Linked DNA regions of Homo sapiens: region 1 is linked to region 2. Evidence: fine-mapped expression QTL. A gene starts in region 2. The other region holds a variant in brackets. All regions are shown on one strand. Distances are from middle to middle.

Evidence for each region. PIP is the estimated chance that this variant, and not a neighbour inherited with it, causes the effect.
Region 1: its variant is the best candidate, but not a certain one, in a credible set for the expression of WNT5A in cerebellar hemisphere (GTEx, PIP 0.53).

What each region holds. Positions count from the first base shown.
Region 1 is chr3:56,105,958-56,111,335 of GRCh38, reverse strand. The region is part of intron 6 of ERC2 (ELKS/RAB6-interacting/CAST family member 2); the gene reads left to right. Among named protein-coding and RNA genes, the nearest start is that of MIR3938, 260 kb to the right of the region's middle. RefSeq lists an enhancer at 1-569. The variant A/G (reference allele first, on the strand shown) is at 2,504.
Region 2 is chr3:55,484,744-55,490,073 of GRCh38, reverse strand. WNT5A (Wnt family member 5A) reads left to right here and starts at 2,768. Exons shown (of 5, transcript NM_003392.7): 1 at 2,768-3,094. The coding sequence starts at 3,089. WNT5A-AS1 (WNT5A antisense RNA 1) reads right to left here and starts at 2,456. Exons shown (of 2, transcript NR_046656.1): 1 at 2,195-2,456; 2 at 1,766-2,084. RefSeq lists enhancers at 122-633, 634-1,144.

The DNA of each region.
Region 1 (5,378 bases), 620 kb before region 2:
TTGAGAGAGAGAGAGAGAAAGAGGGAGAGAGAGAAAGAGGGAGAGAGAAAGAGGGAGCGAGAGATTGAGTGCATTATTGAGCTGATTGCTTGTCTTGTTTTTGTCTAAACTACGAATTGGTCTTGGCTGTTAGAAAGTGAATCTCTTAAAGACACTGGGACTGAAGCACAGGATTTGAGTTCATAGAACACAGCCTCAGGGACACACCAGGACACATTCCTTCACACATAACTTTCTGGGGTCTATAATGGGAATGTAGAGGTCATGTGCCCTCAATTGGAGAGAGACTTAGAGTCCTTGAGCCACTGTCCCTCGGTGGCCCTACCCCCACCCCCTTGAAAACATCTGGGAGACAGTGATCAGGCCAACAATCAAAAGAACTAGGAGTATTCCATATGAACAGGTAGAGACCCTAATAAGAGCAGATGTGTATTCTGGACTCCAGAGGTGACCTTGGCAGACATGAGATGCAGTCAAAGTCTTTTTCTTCTAGCTCTCATTCTAGATTAGTCTTTGATTATCCATTTAGATATGTAGAATCAAATAAGCCAGTATTGATGTATCATATCATGCTGGGGAAATTTTTGAAAAATATTTACCTGTCTCAATCCTGCCTACAGGCCATTTTCCAAAAATAATTTATAATTCCCCTTGTAATGTATTGTTAATATGCTCTAATGATATCAATGCTTAAATCCATCATAATTTTAACATTATGACAGAATTTAAAAAATTCTTTCCATGTTCCTTTGGGACTTTGTTATGTTGTATGTACATTATATTAAATATAGTTGCATTTATAATATAGCCAAAATTCAGGGTTTTGAGTTTTTAAATTTAACTTTTTGTCATTAAACTTGTGCCCATGTAGTTATAAGCCTCTTAATTTTATTCTTAATCACACTGTGTGTCATGATTTCCCTTGCCACACTTCTACTTTTGTTCATTGCAGCTATTTCTAAAATTTTTCACTTGTATAGTTAGTATTGCAGTGGGAATATCTTTGAACATTTGGATTACTGGGTCAAAGGGTATAACCACTTTTATGGCATATTCTGTGCACTTTGAAATTGCTTTTTAAAAGGTGCTCGTGTACCTATTATAATACCTCAGCAAAAGACTGATACCAAATTTCCTATAGCCTTGCTAGTACTGGGTCTTTTAAAGTGAAAATGTTCAGCATAACACTATCCTGCCTTTTTACAACTTTAATTATATTGCAGGGTTGAATATATTTCCATGCTTTGTTTACTGTGTATATTTTCGCCGTGATTTGCCTATATGGTGGATTCTTGTCTAGTGTAATCTCATATTAGAAATATTAACTCTTCCTTAGTTAATGCAGACATTTACCCCCATTTTGTTGTTTGTCTTCTAAATTTTGGTTTTGTGAGTTGTCATGAGGTTTTTGGCTGTACATACAGTTGAATTTGTCAGTCATTTCTGTCATCACTTTTTTAGTTCTTCCAAGGATCAGATAAGTCCTGTCTTCTAATTTCAGCTTGTTCTCTGCGCCTTGATGTTTGTTGTTGTTGGTTTTTAAACATTTGTTTCTTTATAGTTTATTTGTTCTTTTTGGAAGTACAATACATGTACAAAGTCAAAGCAATTTCAACACTGCAGTTGGAAGTGTCCCATGGCCACAGTTGTGTACCTTTACATTCTTTACTTAGCAGGACACCCAAGAATTCATTCTACCCAAGAGATGGCTGACCTCAGGCTTTTCACTGCTGCATCATATTCTGTTATGTGCATGGACTATAATTCGTGTAACCAGTTTAACTTTATTTGGAAAAAAACTTCCTTGATAGATTAGATCTGTCAAGAGTCTATTTTAAGACTCATGCATGTGAATGTTCATTGCAGCACTATTCACAATAGCAAAGACATGGAATCAACCTAAATGCCCATCAGTAACAGATTGGATAAAGAAAATGTGGTACATATACAGCATGGAATACTATGCAGCCATAAAAAAGAATGAGATTATGTCTTTTGTGGAACATGGATGGAGCTGGAGGCCATTATCTTTAGCAAACTAAAGCAGGAACAGAAAATCAAATACCGCATGTTCTCACTTACAAGTTAAATGATGAGATCTCATGAACACAAAGAGGGGAACCGCAGATGCTGGGGCCTACCTGAAGGTAGAAGGTGGGAGGGGGAAGGAGGGAGAGAGGAGCAGAAAAAATAACTATTAGGTACTAGGCTTAGTACCTGGGCGATGAAATAATTTATATGACAAACCCCTGTGACACAAGTTTACTTATATAACAAACCTGCACATGTATCCTCGAATCTAAAATGAAAGTTTAAAAAAAGAGTCTATTTTGATGTTACAAAGCATGAATTTAAGTTAATTTCTTTCTGTTTAATTTATCTTAATATAATTTATTTAATGGTCTTTCTTCACTGTTTTTGATTCATTCTTCATATTATTTCTCATCTATCATTGGCTCTGTTTGGGGACTGTATGTCAGCCTGATTATTAATCTTGTATCCT[A/G]CAGCAGGCTCTCCTACTTTATGTTCTGGATAGATAAGAGATTGCTCCTTTCAATCCAGAATTGCTTTTTCAGAATGGTATTGGACATGCTTACCTGATTTCCCCCTAGTTGATTTCTAGAAACATTTTCTTTATTTTTAAAAAGAATCATCTATAGGGTACATTCAATCTATAAATTAACTTAGGGAGAATTGATTAGTTTAAGTAAATATGATATACTGTCAATTATTTTCCTGTTTTCAGTGTTTTTATGATGCTTATTAAGTTTATTCCTAAGTGATTTATCTTTTGTAATGTCATTTTGAAATATGTATAAGAAATAGATATGTGTATATATATTTGTATTCAGATCATTATTTTTTCCTAAGATTATAAAAAATTATTGGTTATTTAAATTTTCTTTATATGTTAAGGCAAATAATATTATCTTTATCCCTTTGTTGTCACTATTTCTACTTTGAAAATATTTTTTGTGTGTTGTTCTGCGATAAACTTCAAAACATTAAATATTTGCTTATATTTTCTATGGGAATGGCCTAAGGAGTTTCTTGAGTAATGACATATTGGTTCTTTGCTGTGGAAATACTTTCCCTCATGTTGAGAGAGCTTCCATTTCCCTTTAAAAATGTTTATAGGAATGAAAGTTGCATTTTACTAAATAATACTTTAATATCAATTAAAGTGCTCACTAGCTTTTCTTACTTTGCTTATTGATGTGGTATTTCTGTTAATAAAGTGTCTTAGGCTAAAGGACCCTAGGTGAAAGCCTTTTTGTTATGGTGTTGTCTCTAAGTATTTTAAATTCCATATGCTAGTTTTATTTAGGACTTTTGTATCCATACTAATAAGGAGGATTTTATATATGTACATAGCTAGATTGTGTGTTGATTTACAGGATAGTAAGATTTCTTGACAGCATCAATTAACAATTTTTTTCTGTTGTTGAGTAGTATATCTTATATGGAAAACATTTGTTCTTGAAAGTTTGAAAAAATTCACCTAGTTGCTATTACAGTAGGAATCAGTTACTATTTAGGCTTTCTACTTTGGATGGGGTCATGTCTCACATTTTTCCCTTACTTTGTTAGATTGAGAAGATTCAGTCAATGGCTTTTTAAATAGGTACTTAGTTTTCCCTGTTTTATTATATTTTATTTAGGTAAAATGTCTTGGTGTAATGAAAAAATCAGAAGGGTGGCTTTGGTGATGGGGAATAGTTTCCGAGTGCTTTAGCTCTTGTGGTTGCCTGCACATTTTTAGGGTGAAAGCAGAGTATCAGAGGTGGACAGGGTCTTTGAGAGCCCATCATTTTTTCAGATGAGGAAACTGAAGCAGAGACTGGGTGAGTGGCTTGACCAGAGTAGGTCAGTAAGGGTGCAGCCTGGGAAAACTGAGACTGGGACCCAAAGCCCCTTGGTTGAGTCAGAGACTATTGTGTTTAGTTTGAGGATTTATAGTTCATTTTAAAGAAGGAATGGGAAGCTTAATGGGCTTCAGTTTACATTAGTCAGCATTCTTATGCTAGCAAGTAACTGCAACTCTTTTAAAATTAGCAAAAAAAAAAAAAAAAGTGGATTTAATGATTTGTGTGATTGGAAATTTCAGGATAGCATTGACTTTAGACATAGCTGGATCCAGAGACTCAAACATTGCCATCATTGCATTTCTTTCATTTCCCCCTTCAATATCTTGGCCTTTTGTTCCTTTTTGGGGGCTATATATTGGAAGATGCCAGGGCCATCAGCAGACCCAGTATCATATCCTCGTTCATATCCTCCCATCTTTGCAACCCCAATAGAATAAAACATGTTTCCGTATTGAATGCATTACGTGGTCCTAAGAAGGGCTGCGATTGGCTGGGCCTAACACCTGATCACCTCTGATTGATTCACCGTGGTGATTAGGTCACAGTCAATGAAACACCTCCAGCAGCCAAAGTAATTAAAAAGTAATCTTTACTTCTATATCCCAAAGAACATTATCCCAAGGAATCACATAAATCACTAAATCCTCTTTTCTTCTTAAACTAACTGGAAATATTTCCAGTGACTTGCTAGCACAAGAATGCTGATAAATATAAGCCAGTTTATAAACACTAGCAACACTTGTCCCATTTTCAAAGAACACCCCAGGGCTGCTGTTACTCCCTCATGGCTAGTCTTTGACCAAAGTGGCTTTTCTCTCTGCCTTGCTCTCCATTTTTTCAGCATTACAAATTTAAAAAAATAAATAAGTAAACCAGAAAACAAAACATGTACCTAACCTCTGGGCTATTTTTATGTTTCCTCTATTTTCTTTGTCCCCAGAGTCCAGAAAGGCCCTAAAGACAACCCCAAGTTAAAGGCCCCTCCCCCTTCAACACTAGGACAACAGGACAGTGAAGAATAAACACACTTATTGTTGTGTCCTCGTTAAACATTAATACTTTTGGTTCCTTCTTCCCAGTTGCAGACCTCCACGAAGGGAGCTCTAATACATAACTGGATCATTCTGCTTACAGGTGAACTTCTATCTATTTTCCTTTTTCCATGGGGCCAGTGTAATTCTATTGTATCTCTGGAGGTGCTGCCAGGCGGAGCTTGGCTCTCTTCACTGTGGTTCTTCCTGTTGAACCTTCTGCCTAGCGAACAGGCAGGCCCTTCTCAAGGATCCCCACCCACCCCCAGTGCAAAAGGGATCCTACTTTATTAAGAAACTAGACACCTATCAAGATTATAGTGAACATTAGTATACAGTTTGGATCTTCATAAAGGAATTTTAAAAACTTCTCTTATTCAGTGAACTCAAATCATGCCTTACAAGTTTCTTTCTGTACCAGAAACATAAGTCCTGAATTGTGCATTCTTTCTGAAATCATGTGCCAAGTTTAGATCCT
Region 2 (5,330 bases):
AGTCAGCTCATATCCTGCCACTTCTTGGAGCTGCTGCACGTAAGGTGGGTCCCGGAGATCCCTGCCCGCGGGGCGGGGCTGGAGTGTCTGCCTAGGAGGCACATGCTCTCCCGCAGCCAGGGAATCTCAGTCTGCGGCCACTGGGCAGAACGGCAAGGGAGAGGGGGAAGGGCGGAGGGACGCAGCCTGGGGGCGATTTGCCGGGCGGAGACGCTCTTTTTCAGACACCCTCCTCAGGTGGGCAGATCTCAGGTTAGATTCGAAGACTGTAAAATGCCCACAGGTCGGGAAGTGGTCAAGGTTTACAGAGGAGAAGGTTAGAGGAATGGAGACTCAGGAGGTAAAGGGGAGATGTCCCAAGGGGAGCTTTGAGAACCTTGGATTCCCTCTCCTTAAGGCCGCACACGCCCTGGGGGAAAGAAAGCAAGTTGGTGGGAGGCGGGAGGTGCTAAGCAGGAGCATCTGTCTCTGGCACTTGGTGGGAAGTTCACACTGCCATCTTTGCGCGCCAGGAAGGAGGCCAGGGCTGGGGAAGGGTCCAGTCGGCTAGGAAAATTAAGGAATGGGAAGGGGCTGTGGAGGGTGGAACGGCATCGCTGGAGCCTGGGCCTGCGCCCTCTGGGGTGTGGGGGTGGAGGTGGGGGAGGACTGGAGGAACAAAACAAAACAGCCACCACACCAAAACACCTAGGCCACGGATTTTTCGCCTTAAGGTCAAGTGCATGCCAATGGACGGAGAAAATTGAATAGTGTGTGTGTGTGTGTGTGTGTGTGTGTGTGCGCGCGTGTGTGTGTCTTCACCTTTGACAGCTGGAGAATGCAGACGGCGGAAAATAACTATTACGCTCCAGTGTGAGGCACTGTTTGTGGGGTGGGGCCCTCGGCGTGCTGGAGGTAGCGGACACAAATCCACCAACCCTGCCCCTCCGGAGTCCCCAAAACCACGGGCATCTGGAAGCGTCTAGAAATTCCGGTGCCCGGAACCCGGTTTTGCCAAACTTCGCAATCTCCTCACCTGAGGGCACCCGCCAAGATCTCCGTGGCAGGACCACGCATCGCGCCTCATGCTCTGGGCCGGAGCCAGATGAGCAATCATGCATCCCACTACCCAAGTCCCTACTACTCTGGGGACTTTGCAGGAGGTGAGCGCCTAACCCTATCCATCAGCCCCAGTGCTTAAGTATCCTCCCCCAGAGGTAAGAATGAGGAGGTCCCCCATGAGGTTCCATGTCAAGGCAGCAGTCTCCGTGGAGCCCCAGTGGGAGCGGTCTGGGATACGCGGGCGAGCCAAGGGGTCCAGGCGGGGAAGTTGGGGTTCAGCCTCCCGCCGGTCGGTGGCTCTGGAAGGAGCGCAGACAACCAGGCGGCAGGCAGGCAGCGGCTGCGGAGTGGACCTCTCTCTTTCAGCAGATGCCGCGGGGGATGGGGAACTTAGAGAAGGGGAGACAAGGAGAGTGTACCCCGCCTCCCGGCACCCCAGCCCGTAGTACGGCTTTAAAATCCTGCAGAGTTTGTCATAGGCCGGCCTCACCACGCATGCGCATAGCAAAGTTGAGTTTTTTCTTTCTTCCCCCCCCTTCCCTCTCTCTTTCCAGCCGCCCCTAGTTCTGAAACTTTAAAGAACTTTTTTCTTTCTTTCTTTCTTTCTTTTTTTTTTTTTCTTCCTTCTGAGAACACCAGGGGAAAGAGGAGTCTGGAGAGAGGGAGGGAGAGAGTAAGGCAGTTGGCCAGAAGGGCTGGGGGGTGGGAGGGGGGGACGCGTCCCCGCGGTCGGTCAGTCTGTTTGCGGGGCACAGGATCGCGTGGAAATCTGCTGCGAGCTCCACGGAGCCGCCTCCGCCGCCCAGAGCCGGGGTCCGTGCGGCAGCTGCCCAGCGAGCCCTTCCGCCGCCGCCGTTGTGCCCGGGACCGCCCGCCTCCCGCCGGCCCGCTCTCCCGCCCCTCGGACCCGGGCGCCAAACGAGGAGGTGGGCAGCTTCGCCGGCCATGGACCGCCGGAGCTGAGTCGCCGCCGCGGAGCTCCGAGCTCTCGCCCTTCCCCAGCCTCGCGCCCGCGGTGCACTCGCTGCTCTTCGCCCTTCGCCCTGGAAAAACGGGGAAAAGAGAGATCAACCCGAAGAGAGAAAGAACGGGATACGTGGTGGGGGGGGGGAGCCCGCGTCTCCCCTGGGTTAGTCGCACCCCTCCAGCTCACCGCACAGCAATAAGTTCCGGGGCGACTTTCACCTATTTTGCTCCCCGTTTTTGCCGAACCCTAAAATGAAAGGACACAATTTGGGGCTGACTCTTGCAGCTCAGATGGCGACTTGTGCGTTTTCAGCGGCATCTCCCGGAGAAAAAGCCATGCGCGCCTGATTGTTCTGTGGCCCCAAAGCTGCAGCGGGGGTGTGTGTGTTGGGGTGTGTGTCTGTGTGTGTACAGAGACGTCCACACTAACTCGCGGCTGCAGGATCAGCGTCTGGAAGCAGACGTTTCGGCTACAGACCCAGAGAGGAGGAGCTGGAGATCAGGAGGCGTGAGCCGCCAAGAGTTTGCAGAATCTGTGGTGTGAATGAACTGGGGGCACCTGGGCGCACAGATCGCCCCCCTTCCCCCGCCCCGGGCCACAGTTGAGTAGTGGTACATTTTTTTCACCCTCTTGTGAAGAATTTCTTTTTATTATTATTTGTCGTAAGGTCTTTTGCACAATCACGCCCACATTTGGGGTTGGAAAGCCCTAATTACCGCCGTCGCTGATGGACGTTGGAAACGGAGCGCCTCTCCGTGGAACAGTTGCCTGCGCGCCCTCGCCGGACCGGCGGCTCCCTAGTTGCGCCCCGACCAGGCCCTGCCCTTGCTGCCGGCTCGCGCGCGTCCGCGCCCCCTCCATTCCTGGGCGCATCCCAGCTCTGCCCCAACTCGGGAGTCCAGGCCCGGGCGCCAGTGCCCGCTTCAGCTCCGGTTCACTGCGCCCGCCGGACGCGCGCCGGAGGACTCCGCAGCCCTGCTCCTGACCGTCCCCCCAGGCTTAACCCGGTCGCTCCGCTCGGATTCCTCGGCTGCGCTCGCTCGGGTGGCGACTTCCTCCCCGCGCCCCCTCCCCCTCGCCATGAAGGTAGGTGTTCAGTGCGCTGCCACTTTTTTTCTTTACTTCCCCCCACCCCCTGTTGGAAGTTAACTGAGTTCCCTTCGCCTCTTCCTATCCCTCCATTTCCCCAACCGCCTGAAGAAGCTGGAACTCCAGCGTCGCTGGCAGGAACCCCTACCCCTTCGCCCTCCACGCCGGGCGCACTGCCTCAGTGTCCCAGGAGATCACTTCTGGTCGCACCACCCGTTCTGCAAACAATTTTGATTTTTGAGAAAAAGTGGGGAAGAGCGATAGTAGACAAACTGAGTGCGGTTCACTGACGACTTTCCTTTTGCTCTGAGAACATCGAGTGTAATTTACTATGTATATTTCAGTAACAGGATAATGATTCAATTCAACAAATATTTACCAAGCGCCCACTGCGCGGGCACCGGGACGGTGTGTGGCCGGGGCTCGGGATGGGGAAAGGGACTCCTTGGTTGAGAGAACCCGCAGAGGAACTAGGGGCCAACTACTCCAGAGCGGCGTACACCTTCCCCGACACCCCCCCGCACCGACGGAGGCCAGATTGTAGGCTTGCCTTGGCCGAGTAACTCGAGCGCTTCAGGCCCCTTTGCCTTTAAGAGTGCCTGGCGGGGGGCCAGCGCGCACCCCGGCGCGGGGAGCGGGGTCGCGTTATTAGCATTATTAGCCGCCACTGGGTGAGCTCAGGCACTTTGCAGCAGTGGTGGGGGCGGGGAGTTGTGGTGGTAGTGGCTGTAATCCCGTACTCCGGGACAGCGCTCCCCGGCCCCCTGAGCGGAGTCCGCCTTGTCCTTTAGAAAACACTTGGGCCTCCGCTTTGGGAGAGCAGGCGGGGGCCAGTTTGCGAACTCTTGTTTGTTTTAATTGTCAGTTGTATGTTAAAGCCGAATCACACACTCCGAGGGTCACTGAGAGTTCACTTTTACGAAAAGTTAACGTTTCTTCCTGCAACATAAGTTTTTATTTTCTAAACAATTTTTCTTATCTGTCCTCCAAGCTTCGATTCCTATTTCCATTTTTCTGGTCTTTCCCATTTTAAGTTTCTTAGAAAATAAGGTTAGAATTGAAATTAAGATGTTTCCTGGAAGCAAATAACCCCTCTTCCCCCCAAAAAGTTAAAAAAAACAACAACAAAAAACTTCAAGTCTGGAGACCCCACGGCCCTGTTTGACTTTCTAATCCCTGTCTGGTATCGAGGCCCCTTCTCCTCTCTCGCCTCTCTTTTCTCTCTTCTCTCTTTAAATGGGTAATTCGCTGTTTGGAAGTAACTTGGGCCTTGCGGTGAGGTCGCACCTCCTCAGCCCCTGCCCTCCCCCCAGCCACCTTCGCACATTCACTGCCGAACCAGCCAGATTTAGTTTCTAGACAGACTCTGCCAGGGGAGTTTCGAGGGGGCAATGCGGAGAGTGCGCAGCGAACCGCGGGCCGACAAATGTGTGTGTGTCCGAGTGTGTGGATCCTTGGCTGCGTGTGTGTGCGTGTGTGTTTGTGTGTGTAGGGGAGTTGTTCTCGGGTCCAGGACGTAGTAGCCTTCGTCTCCTCCACCCCCCGACCCTCTCAACGGAAGACCCTCCCCAGGAGGCCCGGCCCAAGAGTCCCCTGTCTTCTCCTCCCCTCCCCCGTGCGCTCCGGTGCTCAAGGGGTTAGCACTATGCGCGCAGAACTCGGAGCCATCCCCGCGGCCTTTTCTTCCCCGCGGTGCGGTGCCGGCTGCCCCCTGTTGGCCGCCTTGAGGTAGGACTCCTGCGAGCCTCGGTTCCTTGGGGCGGGCGGGCGGGCAGCTGCTCCCCTCTCCCTCCCACCCCTGCTCCCTTCATCCCTCCCGACCACCAGACCCCACTCTCCCAGCAGGGGCCCTCGGAGGCCCCCAGAGGACCAGTTTCGCTGCGCCGCCGGCCGCTGCAATACGGAAGGGGCCACGGGTCCAGCCCAGCAAATGGGACTCGGCCAGCTGGACACAGGGTTGGTACCTCTTCTTCTGGGCTTGGGAAGGAGAGTGTCGCCCTAGGAGGCCTCGGGTCTGGCCTCAGCTGCCTCCCAACTCTCTATGATCGAGAACAAGTGTTGCTTTCCCGCTTTTCGCCTCACTTTAATCGTCTATTAAAAAGTGGGAGAGAAACTACCTTTAAAGAGTGGGGGTTGGACTATCATTTCATTTTCTTCCTCTGTCCAAGGACTCTGCTCCACCTCTGGACAAAGTTGATCCTCTGCCGAGAGGGCTAGACATCCTATGTGAGAA